2 separate regions of the Homo sapiens genome follow, and region 2 is linked to region 1. The links come from fine-mapping of genetic effects on gene expression. Tissue or cell type: whole blood. Region 1 holds a variant in brackets; the other region holds the start of a gene. All regions are shown on one strand. Distances are from middle to middle.

Region 1 (8,106 bases):
CCTCTCACATCAGCCTCTCAAGTAGCTAGGATAACAGATGTAAACTACCACACCCGCCTTATTTTATTTTATTTTATTTTTTATTTTGTGTATTTTTAGTAGAGATGGGGTTTCACCATGTTGGCCAGGCTGGTCTCAAACTCCTGACCTCAAGTGATCTGCCACCATAGCCTCCCAAAGTGCTGGGATTACAGGCATGAGCCACTGTGCCTTGCTGTGATTTTTGAGTTTATCCTTTTTGGGGTTTGCTGAGCTTCTTGGATCTGTGGGTTGATTTTTTTTCCTATTAGTTTGGAAAATCTTCAGCCATTATTTTTCAAATATTTTTTCTACCTATTCCCTCTTCTGAGATTGCTCTTTCTCCCTCCCTGCTTCCCTTCCTCCCTTCCTCCCTCCTTTCCTCCCTCCCTCCCTTCCTTCCTTCCTTCCCTTCCTCCCTCCCTCCATCCCTCCCTCCCTCCTTTCTTCCTCCCTCCCTCCCTCCCTCCCACCACTACCTCTCAGGCTTAAGTGATCCTCCTGCCTCAGCCTCCTGAGCAGCTGGGGCTACAAGTGTGCGCCACCATGCCTGGCTAATTTTTGTATTTTTTTTTGTAGAGACAGGGTCTTCCTATGTTGCCTAGGCTGGTCTCAAACTCTTGAGCTCAAGCAGTCCTCCTGCCTTGGCCTTCCAAAGTGCTAGGATTACAGGCAGGAGCCATCCCACCTAGCCCTGAGATTCTAATTACATGTATAATAGACCACTTGATATTATCCCACAGATTTTTTTCTCTTGGTACTCTAGTTTGAATAATATTTATTGACCCATCTTAAGTTTCACTGATCTTATCTCATCATGGTCTAATCTACTTTAAGCCCATCCAATGAATTTTTAGATATTGTCTTTTTCACTTGTAGAATTTTCATTTACAGTTGATTTTTTTTTTTTTTTTTTAAGATGGAGTCTTGCTCTGTCACCAGGCTGGAGTGCAGTGGCGAGATCTCGGCTCACTGCAACCTCCGCCTCCCGGGTTCAAGTGATTCTTCTGCCTCAGCCTTCCGAGTAGCTGGGACTACAGGCATGCACCACCATGCCCAGCTAATTTTTGTATTTTTAGTAGAGACAGGGTTTCACCATGTTGGCCAGGATGGTCTTGATATCTTGACCTCATGATCCGCCCGCATCAGCCTCCCAAAGTGCTGGGATTACAGGCATGAGCCACTGCGCCCGGCCTACAGTTGATTCTTGAGCAGCGCAGGTTTGAACTGTGCAGGTCCACTTCTATATAGACTTTTTTCAATAAATATATTGAAACATTTTTTGGAGATTTGTGACAATTTGAAAAAACTTGCAGATGGACCATGTAGCCTAGGAGTATCAAAAAAATTAAGAAAAAGTTAGGTATGTTATGAATACATAAAATATATGTAGGTACTAGTCTATTTTATCATTTACTACCATAAGAGATACACGTATCTATTATAAAAAGTTAAAAATTTTCAAAGCTTATGTGCACAGACTATTCATGGTGCCATTCTCAGTTGAGAGAAATGTAAACAAATGTAAAGATGCAGTATTAAATCACTACTGCATAAAATAAACTATAGTACACCTAGTGTATTAGTATGATAATTTTATAGCTATCTCCTGTGGCTATTGTAGTGCGCTCAGGTGTTTCAAGTATTTACTTAAAATTCAGTGTGATGCTAAGCATCTCTGCATTAGCACTTCATCTCTCCGGTAAATTGCATATCACAGTAAAAAGTGATCTCTCAGGCCGGGCGCGGTGGCTCACGCCTGTAATCCCAGCACTTCAGGAGGCTGAGGTGGGCGAATCACCTGAGGCCAGGAGTTCGAGACCAGTCTGACCAACATGGTGAAACCCGGTCTCTACTAAAAATACAAAAATTAGCTGGGCGTGGTGGCGTGCGCCTGTAATACCAGCTACCTGGGAGGCTGAGGCAGGAGAATCACTTGAACCCGGGAGGTGGCAGTGAGCTGAGCTCGCACCACTGCACTCCAGCCTGGACAACAGGGTGAGACTCTGTCTCAAAAAAAAAAAAAAAAAAGTGATCTCTAAGCCGGGCACGGTGTCTCATGCCTGTAATGCGAACACTTTGAGGGGCCAAGGCAGGAGTGCATGTGTATATACATACATACATGTGTGTGTTTTGTATGTATACACACACACACACACACATAGTTTATTCATGTGTTTTGATTTGTTCTATTTCCAAACCCTTTCGTCTCTCTGGTGGTTAAGGTGAGGGGCTCCTCCTAGAGCTGTGGCTGAGCTCTGGCTATCATGCAGCTTTAATTTGATTGAGTATACTTCTGATTAGCCCATGCCACAATTGCTGAGGGCTTTTCTTTTTATCTTTTTGGCATTTGAGCTTAGGAAGGGATTAGACTACAGTTCCAGACAGTTTTGTTCATTTTTGCATTAAACTCCAGCAGGGCCTCAGAATTCAAGTTCAGTAAGAATGCACAGGTCTTTGTGACAATAAGTGCGTGAGGTGGTGGGGGAACCCCTATCCCACCCTGTTCCTCATCTCCACCTCTCTTGATTTCATTTCTTTCCACTCTCTCATCAACCAGCCTACCTCCAGCCATGCTGTTCACTTTCCTGTTCCTCAAGCCAAGGACACTGTCACCTTAGGTCCTTTGCACCTGCCCAGGATGCTCTTCTCTCAGATTTCCATGTGGTTCTTCCCTTTACTGAATTTATGTCTCCGGTCAAACATCACCCTTTTAGAGAGTCTTCCCCAACCACTTTACATAAAAGATCATCCTACCCTCACTGTGGTTCTCCCAATGTCTCTTATCCTGCTTAATTTTTTTCTAAGGTATGTATCACCATCTGTCTTTCTATATATTACATTATTTATAGTAATCTCCAGATTAGAGATCCAGACAGACTACAGTTCCAGACAGTTTTGTTGATCAGATTTGGAGATCAGAGGATCTCCAAACAGATCCAGAGAAGGCTCCTGATAAAAGTAAGTTTAGAATCTCTCAGAATTTAGAATACTGTCAGAACTCCTTGGAACTTAACAGAGGTGGTCTCCGGCTAAAAATGAATGTATTTGATGTTCTAGGAATTGTTGACTTTCAAGGACATATCTATTGACTTCACCCAGGAAGAGTGGGGGCAGCTGGCTCCTGCTCACCAGAATCTATACCGAGAGGTGATGCTGGAGAACTACAGCAACTTGGTGTCAGTGGGTAAGACTTGGCTATCCATGCATCCAGAAACCCACCCATTACAGGAGAGTCATTATTTTAAATTATTGATGTGTAGATTCCTTGAGGCTTGATTTGGGTTCTGTATTAAAGATGTCTTATTCCCTTTGAAAACCAAGTGAGGGCATATCCAATTTGACTTTCTTGGGGAACAACTTTACTACACATAGTTAGGATAGAAAGACCCACCCCTTTCCACTTGTGGAGACCCTGAATACCAGAAGACTCAAAATTCTGAGGATGGTTCTTAGACATCAGCATAAACATTCACACTGTTTTTTTTACTACATAAGCAGGATATCAACTTTCCAAACCTAGTGTGATATCCCAGTTAGAGAAAGGAGAAGAGCCATGGATGGCAGAGAAAGAAGGCCCAGGAGATCCCAGTTCAGGTGAGACCAAGTGTGTTAGTCTGTTTTTGTGTTGCTATAAAGGAATACCTGAAACTTCATAATTTATAAAGAAAAGAAGTTTAATTGGCTAATGATTCTGCAGGCTGTACAGGAAGCATGGCACTGGCATCTGCTCCTGGTGAGGGCCTCAGGAAACTTACAATCATGGTGAAAGGCATATCACATGGTGGGAGCTGGAGCATGAGAGTGAAGGAGGAGGTGCCAGGCTCTTTTTCTTTTTCTTTTTTTTTTTTTTTTTTTTTTGAGACAGAGTCTCGCACTGTCGCCAGGCTGGAGTGCAGTGGCGCAATCTTGGCTCACTGCAACCTCCGCCTCTGGAGTTCAAGCGATTCTCCTGCCTCAGCCTCCCGAGTAGCTGGGACTACAGTTATGC[G/A]CCACCACGCTCAGCTAATTTTTGTATTTTTAGTAGAGACAGGGTTTCACCATGTTGGCCAGGATGGTCTTGATCTCGACCTTGTGATCTGCCCACCTCGGCCTTCCAAGGTGCTGGGATTTCAGGTGTGAGCCACTGCGCCAGGCTGGTGCCAGGCTTTTTAAACAACCAGATCTCATGTGAACTCAGAGTGAGAACTCATTACCATGGGGAGGACACTCATTCATGAGTGATCCACCCCCATGACCCAACACTTCCCACCAGGCCCCACCTGCAACACTGGGGATCACATTTCAACATGAGATTTGGAGGGGATAAATATTCAAACCAAATCACCAAGGCAGATGGAATTTTAATATGTAGGTCAGAGTGCTCAAAGCCTCGGCTGTGGGGAGGGCTCAGACCACTGGACAGAGCCTCCACTAAACTAATATCACCCGTCCCTTCCTTACCCCTTTCCTTCACTGAGCCCTTGCAAAAGTCCCCTGGAGTTGGAGGAAAGAGCAGTCTTGTCCTCATTAAGGTTGAGCTGGATTTTCCCTTTCTCCAGTATCCTAAGGGCTGCCAATCTAAAGCTTTCTCTAAGCAGTCAAATGTATGTGGTATTTTCACAGAAAACCAATCTCTTTCCAAGACTCCCATTGCATTCTACAAATCTTTAATTTTCCTGCACTCCATTTTTACTTCTTGCCAATGTTCATTTTACAATTCCAGCTTCGATTCTCATTCTCTTTTTAACTTATGTATCTTTTTTGTAACAGCTACTTATGAAAACTCCTGTAAGAGAAATTACCAAAGGATTCCTTCTCAACCAAATGTCGGGGTCCCTAACAATCTCCTCAAACTTTGCTTTTTATTCTGAAATATTTTAGACACTCAGAAAGGCATAGAAAACATTATAACACATTTCTGTGTAGCTTCCACCTAGACTAAGAAATGAAACACAGTTGAAGCTCCACTGTCCCCCTTACACCTTTTGAAATAAGCACTCTGCATTGAAATATTATTCCCATGTCTTCGTGCTTTTATTACATGTATAATGTAGTAAAAGCAGTCTATATATCAGTGTATACATACTAAACAATATATAGCATTGTTTTGCATGTTCTCTTTCTTTAAATAAATGGTATATATACTTCTTCCTTTTGCTTTTCTCATTCAACACTGGTGATATTCCTCAGTATGTTATTCTAGTTCATTCAATCCATTGAGTTAATAAACCACAATGTTCTTATTCATTTTCCTGTTGATAGACATTTACATTGTTTCCAAATTTGGGAGTTACAAAGATGCTACAGCAAACCTTTGTGTACATAACTTCTTGTATACATAATGCAAGTGTTTCTCTAAGATAGCTGGTAGAAGCAAAATTGTTGGGTTGTAGAATATATGCACTTTCATTTTGCTAGGTATTACCAATTTGCTCTTCAAAGCAGTTACACCAGGTTATTCTCCCATTAACAGGGTTTGAGAGTTTCCATAACTCAGCATCTTTGTCAACATTTGTTATTGTCAAACTTTAAGATTTTTGTAAATTCACTGGGTTATGGTATCTTGTTTCTTTCATTTTCCTGATTACCAGTGAAAGGAAGTATATTTCTCATGTTCATTGACCATCCATCCATCTCTTCTTCTGTCCTTACTCTAATGCCAGGCTCTTCTGTTAATTACCTGTTTATATCCCTTGCCAATGTTTCTATAATCTTTTTTTCTTATTGATTGGTAGAAAAAAATGTGTGTGTGTATGTGTGTGTGTGTGTGTGTGTGTATATATATATATATTCATTCTAGTATAATTATACATATATTCATTCTAGATAATAATCCTTGATAGCTTTATGTTTTGCAAATGTTTACTCTAGGTCAGTGGCCCATCTTTGACTTTTCAAAATTAGTGTCTTTTGTTAGACGTGAGTTTCTAAATTTAATGTTACTGAATTTATCAGGATTTTCTTTATTGTTTGTGCTTTTTAAGAAACCCTTTTATGCCTTATTATTCTTTTTTGTAAACTTTTTAAATTGTTTTTAGAGACTGGGTCTTGCTATGTTGCCCAAGCTGGCCTCGAATTCCTGGGCTCAAGTGATTCTTCTGCCTCAGCTACCTCACCTACTAAAGAGGCTGAGGCAGGACTACAGGTGCATGCTGCTGTGCCCTGCTATCCTCCATTTTATCATATATGTGGATCATACATATATGTTTTTACATATTCCTGTATTTTCAAAGTTTTGCTTTCCACATTTAGGTTTAATTCATCTGGAATTTATTTTATATAAATAAATTTGTATGTATGAGGTGGAAATCTGATTAACTTTTTCCACATGGATAATCAGTCCAGGAATAGTTAATGCTGCTCTGTCACCTGTCAAGTTTCTTTATATGTTTGGGTCTGTTTCTGTTTTGTATATTCTTTTTCTGTCGTGTTTCTCTCTTTATGTTGTTTTATTCTTTTGTTTTTCTGTCCTTACTCTAATGCCAGGCTGTCTTAAAAACTGTATCTCATAATGAGACTTAATATGTGGTAGAGGTAGTTCACCCACCTTGTTCTTTAAAGTTGTTCTGGTTATTCTTGGATCCTTGTTGTTCTATTTGAATTATATAATCAGAGCATCAAATCACACCCACAAATACTCTGCTGGCATTTTGATTGGAATAGAATTGAATTTCTAGATCAATTTTGGGGGAGTTAACATTGTTATGCTATTGAATCCTTCCAGGAATATGATATAGCACTCCATTTATTGATATTTCCTAATTTTTTTCAGTAACATTTCAGGATTTTCTCCTGTACATATTGTACATTTTTTGTTAGATTGATTCTGAAAATCTTATATTTTGTTGCTACTGTAGATGGTATTTTTTTTCCTTTTCTTTTCCCTGAGCCTCAGTCGTGAACAGGTATATTTTTAAAGAAAGATTATGTTGCTGGCCAGGTGCGGTGGCTCATGCCTATAATCCCAGCATTTTGGGATGCTGAGGCGGGCAGATCACCTGAGGTCAGGAGTTCGAGACCAGCCTGACCAACATGGTGAAACTCCATCTGTACTAAAAATACAAAATTAGCCAGGTGTGGCGGTGCATGCCTGTAATCCCAGCTACTCGGGAGGCTGAGGCAGGAGAATCGCTTGAACCCGGGAGGTGGAGGTTGCAGTGAGCCAAGATCACGCCGTTGCACTCCAGCCTGGGCAACAAGAGTGAAACTCTGTCTCAAAAAAAAAAAAAAAAAATTATGTTGCTAGTAAGTAATAACAAAATTGATTTTGAATATTGACCTTTTATACAGCCACCTTGTTTTACTCTTATTAATTCCAATCACTCTTTGTATATTTTCCTGGGTTTTCTCTTCCTCAACTTACAATAATGAAAATAATAATAAAAGCTACCATGAATGTTCTTTCCCAGCCTCTGGATGAAATCTCAAAGAGTTCCATTGATGATCCCGTTCCTTTAAATAACAAGAACAGTCTTGACTTTAGTAAAATGCCTATTTAGTTCAGTGCAATAATAAAAACTCCCAACTTCATTCAAAACTAAACCCTCTCTTCTTCCCCACTAGCTTGACACTCCCTCATGCTCGGATACTGAATTAGGGAGGGATGCATAAATGGCTTCTTTTCTTTTCCCCCATCATCTTCTTTTCCTCCTCCGCTATTCAAGACCAGAATCAGGGACCTGCAGAGCATAGATATTATTAGACATTATTATTGCCTGTTGTCATTTAGAATTTGACATTTTGAATTGCTAATGATCCATCTGTGTTGGCTAAAAAAAATCTTATAAGAAATTAAACCTTTCAGGAATACATAAAGACCTGTCAGTTGAAATATTAGTAATGGTGCAACAAATTTATCAAGTAAAAATCTTAAAGGTTAAAGGGTATTTTCCTAGAACCTAGCAGCAGTAACAGCATAGCAATCTGGGTTTCTTACAAGTCTCCTTTGTATAAGTAATACTTCCATGAACATATTAATAACTATAGAAAGAGAAATATATATATATACACACACACAAGTTTCAATAAAAGACAGCATAATGTTCTTGTGTGTATTCTTAGTTCAAACTGTATTTTCTGAACGAATGTCTCCTGCTGCTGCCAGAG
Region 2 (8,104 bases), 200 kb after region 1:
GGAATGTAAAATGGTATGATGCTATGGAAAACAGTATGGTGGCTCCTCAAAAAAAAAAAAAAATTAAACATAAGAATTGCCATATAATCCAGCAATTTCACTTCTGGGTATATACCCCCAATAATTGAAAGCAGGGACTCCAACAGATATTTGTATACTAATGTCCACAGAAGCATCATTCACAGTGGCCAAAAGGTGAAAGTAGAATGGTGGTTACCAGAGGCTGGGGAAAAGAGAATAGGGCGTAAGCGTTTAACGTATACAGAATTTCAGTATGGGATAATGACAAATTCTGCTGATGGATGCACAACGTGAACAGGCTTAATGTCACTGAAATGTATACTTAAAGATGGTTAAATTTAGGCCAGGGGCGGTGGCTCACGTCTGTAATCCCAGCACTTTGGGAGGCCAAGGCAGGTGGATCACCTGAGGTCAGGAGTTCCAGACCAGCCTGATCAACATAATGAAACCCCGTCTCTACTAAAAACACAAAAATTAGCCGGGCCTGGTGGCACGCGCCTGTAATCCCAGCTACTCGGTAGGCTGAGAAAGGAGAATCGCTTGAACCCGAGAGGCGGAGGTCGCAGTGAACCGAGATTGCACCATTGCACTGCAGCCCCGGCAACAAGAGCAAAACTCCATCTCCTAAAAAAAAAAAAAAAAAAAAATGGTTAAACCTGTTTAAAAGCAAAACAAAAAACTTCTACCACTCACTTCCCGTATCAGAAAATAAAGCCCAAGAGCCTTAATTTAACCATAATAATGTATCTTTCCATGATTCTTCTTCCATTCCCTCTTACTCTGTGTTTCCTCAACTGATCCCTCGCTTCTTCTATTTGCTTTAGTGGCTGCCTACATGTCTTCCCTAATTTTACTCATTTTTCAAGACCCAGTTCAAATGTCACATCCTTGCAAATCTTTCCTGAACTCCTCCCACTATTTCATACTAAGTGGAAGTAAGCTTTCCCTTTTTGAACTCCAGCAGCACATGAACTATATCTTTTAGTGCCGCTTTTCTATTTTTTGAGACAGAGTCTCGCTCTGTCACCTAGGCTAGAGTGCAATGGTGCGATCTCGGCTCATTGCAACCTCTGCCTCCCAGGTTCAAGTGATTCTCCTGCCTCAGCCTCCTGAGTAGCTGGGATTACAGGCGTGTGCCACCATGCCCGGCTAATTTTTGTATTTTCAGTAGAGACGGGGTTTTACCATGTTGATCAGGCTGGTCTCGAACTCCTGACCTCGTGATCTGCCCGCCTCAGCCTCCCAAAGTGCTGGAATTACAGGTGTGAGCCACCACGCCTGGCCAGCGCTGCTTTTCTTTTAGGCCAAAGGTACACAATGAGATAGAGAGGTGTGGCTTAAGGAAGTCCAGCTGGCTGTCTAGACAGGTTCTGTTATACAGTGCTATAACCTTAAGGAATTTACCATGATACAAGAACTGATGTTTAACCTTGCAAACTCAGAAACCTAATTTTAATAGTAAGCAGAAAGTTGAACCATTTCCTGGGGGTAGGGGGTGTCTTGTATTTGCCAAGCTCACAGAAACTTTTATATAAAGAGGAATCTAACTGATTAGTTACAATGAAAAATACAATGATCAAAAGAACTAGAATACTCTAGGTGGCAGATCACTTAATTCTGTCCCTATCGCCAAGACACTTGCTGGGTGAACATAGAGGAAAGCATGTTGATCTTAAGAAGTATTTCTTAGCTGAGGCAGTCTGAGATATTCCCATCCACTACAGAGATGACACGGGCAAGGAAATCCTAATGCTCAGTGTGGCTTAATTGAGATGAGGCTTAGAGGGGCAATGGTAGTGCTAGCCTTTGTGACTGCCTTGTTTTGGGCTGCCATGGCTGAGCAAGCCCTTTTGTTCACAGAATCTCTCTCCAAACAGGGTACAGAATGGCTGACGAGATTGATTAGGTTCCATTTATTAAATTACAATATCTACCTTCTTCAGGTTCCTCCCATATGCCCTTTATCAGAGTTTGTTTTGTTTTGTTTGGTCATGTTTGTAAAAAAGGTCTTGGCTTACCCCCATGGATAGCTAATTTCATGGTTGTATTAGTCTGCTTAGCTAGCATGTTATGCTGCAGTAACAACGAAAACAATCTCAGTGGCTTACAACAAAGGTTTATTTATTGTTCACACAACATTACAGGTTATGTGTGTCAGCTGTCGCTCTGCACATCTTCATTCTGGGACCAAAGCTGAAGAGGGAGCTCTATTTAGGACATGCTGCTCTTGTGTCAGAGGAAAGATAATATGGCAAAATTGTAAGATAGCTCATAAATTTCTGCTCAGAAGTGGTTCATGCCATTTCTTTCTTTCTTTTTTTGAGACAGAGTCTCACTCTGTCGCCCAGGCTGGAGTGCAGTGGCGTGATATTTGCTCACTGCAACCTCCAACTCCCTGGTTAAAGCAATTCTCCTGCCTCAGCCTCCCGAGTAGCTGGGATTGCAGGTGCCTGCCACCACACCTGGCTAATTTTTTTATTTTTAGTAGAGACAGGGCTTCACCATCTTGGCCAGGCTGGTCTTGAACTCCTGACCTCGTCATCCACCCACCTCGGCCTCCCAAAGTGCTGGGATTACAGGTGTGAGCCACCGTGCCCGGCCGGTTCATGCCATTTCTACTCATATTTCATTGGTCAAAACAAGGCCAAGCTTGACGACATTAGGGTGAGAAGTCTTTCACCCTAATCTCCTAGGGACAGGCCAGATAGCAACGGCTTTAGAAAGGGAAGGGCGGAGGCTATTGATAATAAAGACTATAGCAAGGACTAATATTAGGCTTATATGTATCAATTGACTGTTATCAGTTATAACATTGACTATTAAAATACTGAAATACTCTAGTACTACCTGGTAAATAGCTGCTGTCCCAAACCTCCTGACCACTCCCTTCCCCTGGGATCCCTTGGGACCTCCTATTCACAAACCAGCAACTGAAGGGTTAACACCTAGCACAGACGTATACCTCCAGGATCCTAGCTGCATTTCTAATTCTGCTTCATCTATGCTTGAGCACTACTTGTTGTTAAATATACTTAATATCACTCTTAGCTAATTTCCTCTATGTAGATTTTTATTTATTTCTGAGGGCAACCCAACTTCCAGGCTCTTGGAAGGAAATAGACTGCAGCCCCTAAGTGTGATCAATACTTAATTATAACAATAATCACTAATAATAACTTGTGCTGCTTCATTGTAACTAAATGTACACTTTTACATTTTTTGGCAAGCATAGTATATGCAATAAGTACTCAATAAACATCTGTAGAGAGACTTATTTAGCTTTTTTCCATTAGCTACATCTGTCTCTACAATCTCAACATACTATTCTCTTGAATCTGTTTTTAATTTTATGCCATTTCTCATGTCTGAAAATGTCATTATAAGTAACTTTTTTTTTTTCTGAGACAGGGCCTCGCACTGTCGCCCATGCTAGAGTGCAGCGAGACACTCGTAGCTCTTACCAGTAACTTCTTTATAACACTTTTGCAATTTACGAAGCACTCTCACATTATTTCATTCACTCTCCCCAACATTACCAAAAGTTAGGAATTAGATCTTTTTACAGATGAAGGAATTGAGACTCCCTGAAGTCAAGTGTCTTATAGTTAGGTTTTGTTCATTCATTCATCAAATAGAGTGCCTGATGTGAGATTTATTGAAACTGGATTTGAAAACAATTTTCCTGAATTCAAGTCGAGGGTTTACTCCACTATTCTCAATTACTTTATCACCAGGGTTATAAACCCAAAGGAAGTGAGTAACAACAGTGTGATTTTATTGAGGACCCATGCAACACTAGTCTCAGAAAGGCTCCAGTGTCATTTGTAAAATTCAAGGTTACCATCAGCAGAGGCAGTCATTCCTCTCTGCGCTTGTTACCTAATGCACTAACTCTCACTGTAGGTAATTCCATTCAAGACACATTTGATGACTATACCTACAGGTTTTGAAGTTATTCGGATGGGGTTTTGACACTTACTAGCTGTGGGGACTTAGATCAAGTTACTTAACCTTTTTGAGCTTCAGTTTTATCATTTGTAAAATGGATACAATCCTGATGCCTTTGGACCAAGTGGTCACGGAAATGAAAGAGATAAGTATGAAAAAATCCATGCTCATAGTAGCTGTGGTTTCCAACTGCGTGATAAAACTTTAAAATCTGCATTCAAATAAGAACAACTATGTCGACGTAAGGTTACAAGCTAACTATTCTTGGTAAGTACTGTTCTTTATTCTAGAGGACATCACTTTACAGTTTGGTGCTAAATGCTCTTTTATGAATTTAAGGTGCCAGTAGCTGTCTACTTGAACGGCATGCTTAATCTGGAACGCCATGTCGACCTTCATCCCCCAGTTCTTTCTCCCCAAATTAAAAACACAAATACACACACACGCCCCTACTTAGTTCCTAAAACTCAAGGGCACGCGCACACACCTACTTATTTCCTAAAATTCAAGCTCGCACCAAGGAGATCCACAAGGATAGGCAGGGTGGTGGAGGTCACTGGGCAGCGCCTCCGGATCCCCCGAAAGGGGGCGGGGTCAAAACTCAGATCTCGAGCTCCCGAAAGGGGGCGGGGTTAAAACTCTCAGATCTCATTCCGCCTCCCTCTGTCGTCGCCCCTTCCCAATTCTCGCGAGACCTCAAGGAGCACAGCTTCTGCGCACCGCACGATACTGGGAGTCCAGGCGCCAAGGGAGGGGGAAGGGAAAAGGGGAAACGGTGCAAACGGCGTGGCCGCCATCTTGCTTGTGCCCCCGCTTCGCGCGCGCTCCGTTCTCCGTGACGCACACTTCCCCCTCCCCTCCGCCGCGCCTGGGCCTCTGCATTGCCCGACTCCGTAGGAGCGCGGGGGCGGCTCCTGCTCTTCCTGGACTCCTGAGCAGAGGTGTGTGAGTGTGCGGGAGTTTCTGTGCGAGGGTGATAGGGAAGCGGCGGCGGGGGGAGGGGCAGCGCTTCCCGCCTTCGCCAGAGACCTCACTTCCTCGCGCGGCCGCTGCTGTAGCTCGGTCCGTCCTGCCCGCCGCCATGTTGTGCTCTTGCCTGGCCCGCTGCTGTCGCCGCCGCCGCGCTCGTGGGGTCCGTGTGCCTCGTCGGCCCGGCCCGCGGGCTTTCTCCCATTGGCGGAAGGCGACGGCGGGGGGGCTCGCTCGTGATTGGTCGGTGGCGGGGAGGCCGCGGACCTGGCACCTTATTGGACGCGCCAGCTCCGGTCTAGGGGGTGATGAAGGAATCTGAGGCTGCGGGGATGCGCGCGTCTTGGGCTAGGGCGGCTGGGGCAATGACCCCCTGCGGCGCAGGCGTGGGGTTGCGGCGAGAGGGCGAGCCTAGAGGCTTTAAGGGGGAAGAGAGGGTGATGGCCTGGCAGGTACTTTGGGGGTAGCTTAGGCCATGGCCTGGGAATGGGGGACACTCACTTTCAGAGGTGCTTTTCCTGGTACATGCATGGCCCAAGATTGGGGTGTGCAGGCCCTCAGGGTTCCAGGCTTGGAAACACCGAAACCCAAGTGACAGGCTGAGAGTCTTCGAGATCCAGGGTTGCTAATGTGACCCAGTTTGGAAGTGGCCCTGAAGTCCACGGTGTGAGTGTATGGTGTAGGAAGAAAGGCATCAGGGCTAGGGGCATAGCTGAACGGTAGAATCGGATCAGGGATTTTGCTGGAGAGTGCAAGCATTCAAACACTGAGGTTTTGGTGGAGCCCTGGAGTCCAGAGTCAACGGACCTGGGATGTGATGTGAGGAGCAAGTAAACCGAGAGAGGAATGCTATTGAGAAGTGTGCTCTGTCCGAGCCTAGGAAGCACAGCATTAAGTAGTATCAGATTTAAAGTGACAAAATCTGATATAGGAAGCATTTTAGGGGACATTTTCGGACTTGGGAAGTGTATTAATAGAACAGTTATACATTATTGAGTCTCAGGACCATACAAGTAGTTTTGAGATGTTGTATATGAAATTTGCTGCTCTAGGAAGGATACAGGTCATGGCTGAGTTTCCAAAGCCACATTAGCAAATATTAGGTAGTTGGTAGTTATTTGTTGAGTAAATATTGTTAGGTTCCCCTTTAAGGGAAAGGGAGCTAGCCAGAAATTTTCGGTCTTGGTTTATTTCCTTGTATATGTGCCTAAAAAGTATACCCATTCCCATGTGTACTTTGAATTTTTTGTTTGTTTTTTCAAATAAGCAGCTCCAAACCAAAAAAAAGCCCATGCATAGCTTCTTAAGGAACAGGACTTGTCAACACTTTCTGGTTCATATTCAAAAAGTTTTTATTCCAATCCAGAGTCGTTCCAGTCAACTTGTTGGGAATATGTTCTTTTCCACTGAATCTGAATCGTAGTTACTTGTATTGCTTTACATTTGCTCGTCCCAGTGTGTGAGGGCCATGGAAACACATTTATGTTAAACATCTGTGTTTTCCTAATTTGTTTTTCCTTGTTTTTGTTAGGTAGTCCTTTTTAGCTTTAGATGGTACTCTTCTGTTTTCATACCAATTTCAAGAAACTCCTAGGGTTTTCAAATTTAGTTTTATGTGAATGCAACTACATTTTCTGGAGAAGGGAATTGATAAGTAGCAGAGGAAGAGAATTGCTATTTTGGGGCATATTTTAACTCCAATAGGTAGGCATTATCGTCCCCATATTGCAGATGAGGAAACTGAGGATCAGAGAGTTTAAGTAGCTTGTCTGGTGTCACTCAGTAAGTGGTTGAGCTAGAATTCAAACCCTGGTTGCCTGATGCCAAAGCCTGTAATTTTATCTGCTACATCAGCTATCAACATAAACCTGACTAATGAAACTTCCAGATAATTTTGTATTTCCAAGTGGATCATCTACTTTGATTTCTGGGTGTTTAGAGTGTATAAAATGGAAGACTATAATTCTTAAGAATTTCTTGTGCTGCTTAAGGATTCAGACCACAGAATTGTAACCATAGAGAATATGGGTTCTTCAGCTAGGTATTCAAATCATATCCCTTGGCTTCTATTGTGAAAGGGAAGATTTACCAAGTAAATTGCTGCATTTTTTCCTGAATCCAGGTAGATAATGGGGAAAAATATGTACAGAAACTTGAAGAATCTGCATTCCTTAAAACCAAGCTTCAGAATATTGCAGATAGTCTTTCTGTATGTGGAGGTAATTTATGCCAAATGGCGAGGAACTACCAAGTGCCTAGTGTAAAGAGCTCACTGGAGAGGTTTTTCAAGCATCACCAGTTCCTTAGGGTGTCCCCAAATACCAGGACCTATTCAAAGGCCTAGTGCTTTCTTCAGACTGTGGGATATTGATTCTAGGATATGCTTATCCTGAACAATGTGTAAAATTAAGACTGGATAGGACAAAATATTTGCAGTTCCAATTTTGCATGGAAACCTTTAAATCAGGGTTTGAGAGGAGACCAGTGAGTTGGAAATCTTAATTGCTTTATGTCTTGATGTGCTTAGGTGAAGCCCTCCCTCATTTTTGTTTACAATAACGTTTCACTGTGGAAGATAGAGGCAAAGCTACAAGTGAAAATAGGGTTTGCCATGTATTTTGTACATTGGTCATTTCAGCCTCATTTGGCTCAGTCATCAAGTTAACCAAATATGAAGAATGCTGTAGATCTATAACTTAGTTTCGTTTTTAGTAAGACTAGACAAGGTGATAAAAATGAGTGTATATGTACACCTTTTTTTTTTCAGCAGGCATTTCTGGAGCAACCTGCCCTTCAACATTGGTGACCACCTTCATTCCATGTTAGCCCCTTATACCCATGGCCACCTTGTTAAGATCTGGAATTGACCACTCTAGAAATCTTGAACTCTCAGGAAATCTCAGTAGATCTGAGTTTATGTTGAAAACTTGTGAACCTCAGCTTTTTCTTCAGGCAGAAATCATACTAAGATTTATACTTTATAGGCTGTGTTCATGGCATCTTATTTAATTCTTATGACAAATCTGTTATCTCATTTATACTTACACATTTTTTTCTTTGGTCAGAACTACTAGAGACTGGGCGCAGTGGCTCACGCCTCTAATCCCAGCGTTTTGGGAGGCTGAGGCAGGTGGTATTTGAAGTCAGGAGTTTGAGACCAGCCTCG

Which allele goes with the higher level. Alleles are on the strand shown, and positions count from the first base shown. SD is a standard deviation of normalised expression in the study named.
For the expression in whole blood of the gene that starts at base 4,747 in region 2, allele G in region 1 goes with a lower level than allele A (moderate effect, 0.58 SD a copy in Lepik 2017).

The links. PIP is the estimated chance that this variant, and not a neighbour inherited with it, causes the effect.
Region 2: it holds the start of NFYC, and the variant in region 1 is fine-mapped to the expression of NFYC in whole blood (Lepik 2017, PIP 0.95).

What each region holds. Positions count from the first base shown.
Region 1 is chr1:40,486,010-40,494,115 of GRCh38, forward strand. It overlaps ZFP69 (ZFP69 zinc finger protein), which reads left to right. Exons shown (of 6, transcript NM_001320179.2): 4 at 3,079-3,205; 5 at 3,520-3,615. It overlaps EXO5-DT (EXO5 divergent transcript), which reads right to left. Exons shown (of 2, transcript NR_187365.1): 2 at 5,016-7,679. Among named protein-coding and RNA genes, the nearest start is that of ZFP69, 13 kb to the left of the region's middle. The variant G/A (reference allele first, on the strand shown) is at 4,010.
Region 2 is chr1:40,686,958-40,695,061 of GRCh38, forward strand. It overlaps NFYC (nuclear transcription factor Y subunit gamma), which reads left to right and starts at 4,747. Exons shown (of 10, transcript NM_014223.5): 1 at 4,747-4,910. It overlaps NFYC-AS1 (NFYC antisense RNA 1), which reads right to left and starts at 5,304. Exons shown (of 1, transcript NR_024567.1): 1 at 2,123-5,304. It also overlaps a transcript of RIMS3 not described here. RefSeq lists a silencer at 5,155-5,254 and enhancers at 5,495-5,664, 5,685-5,734.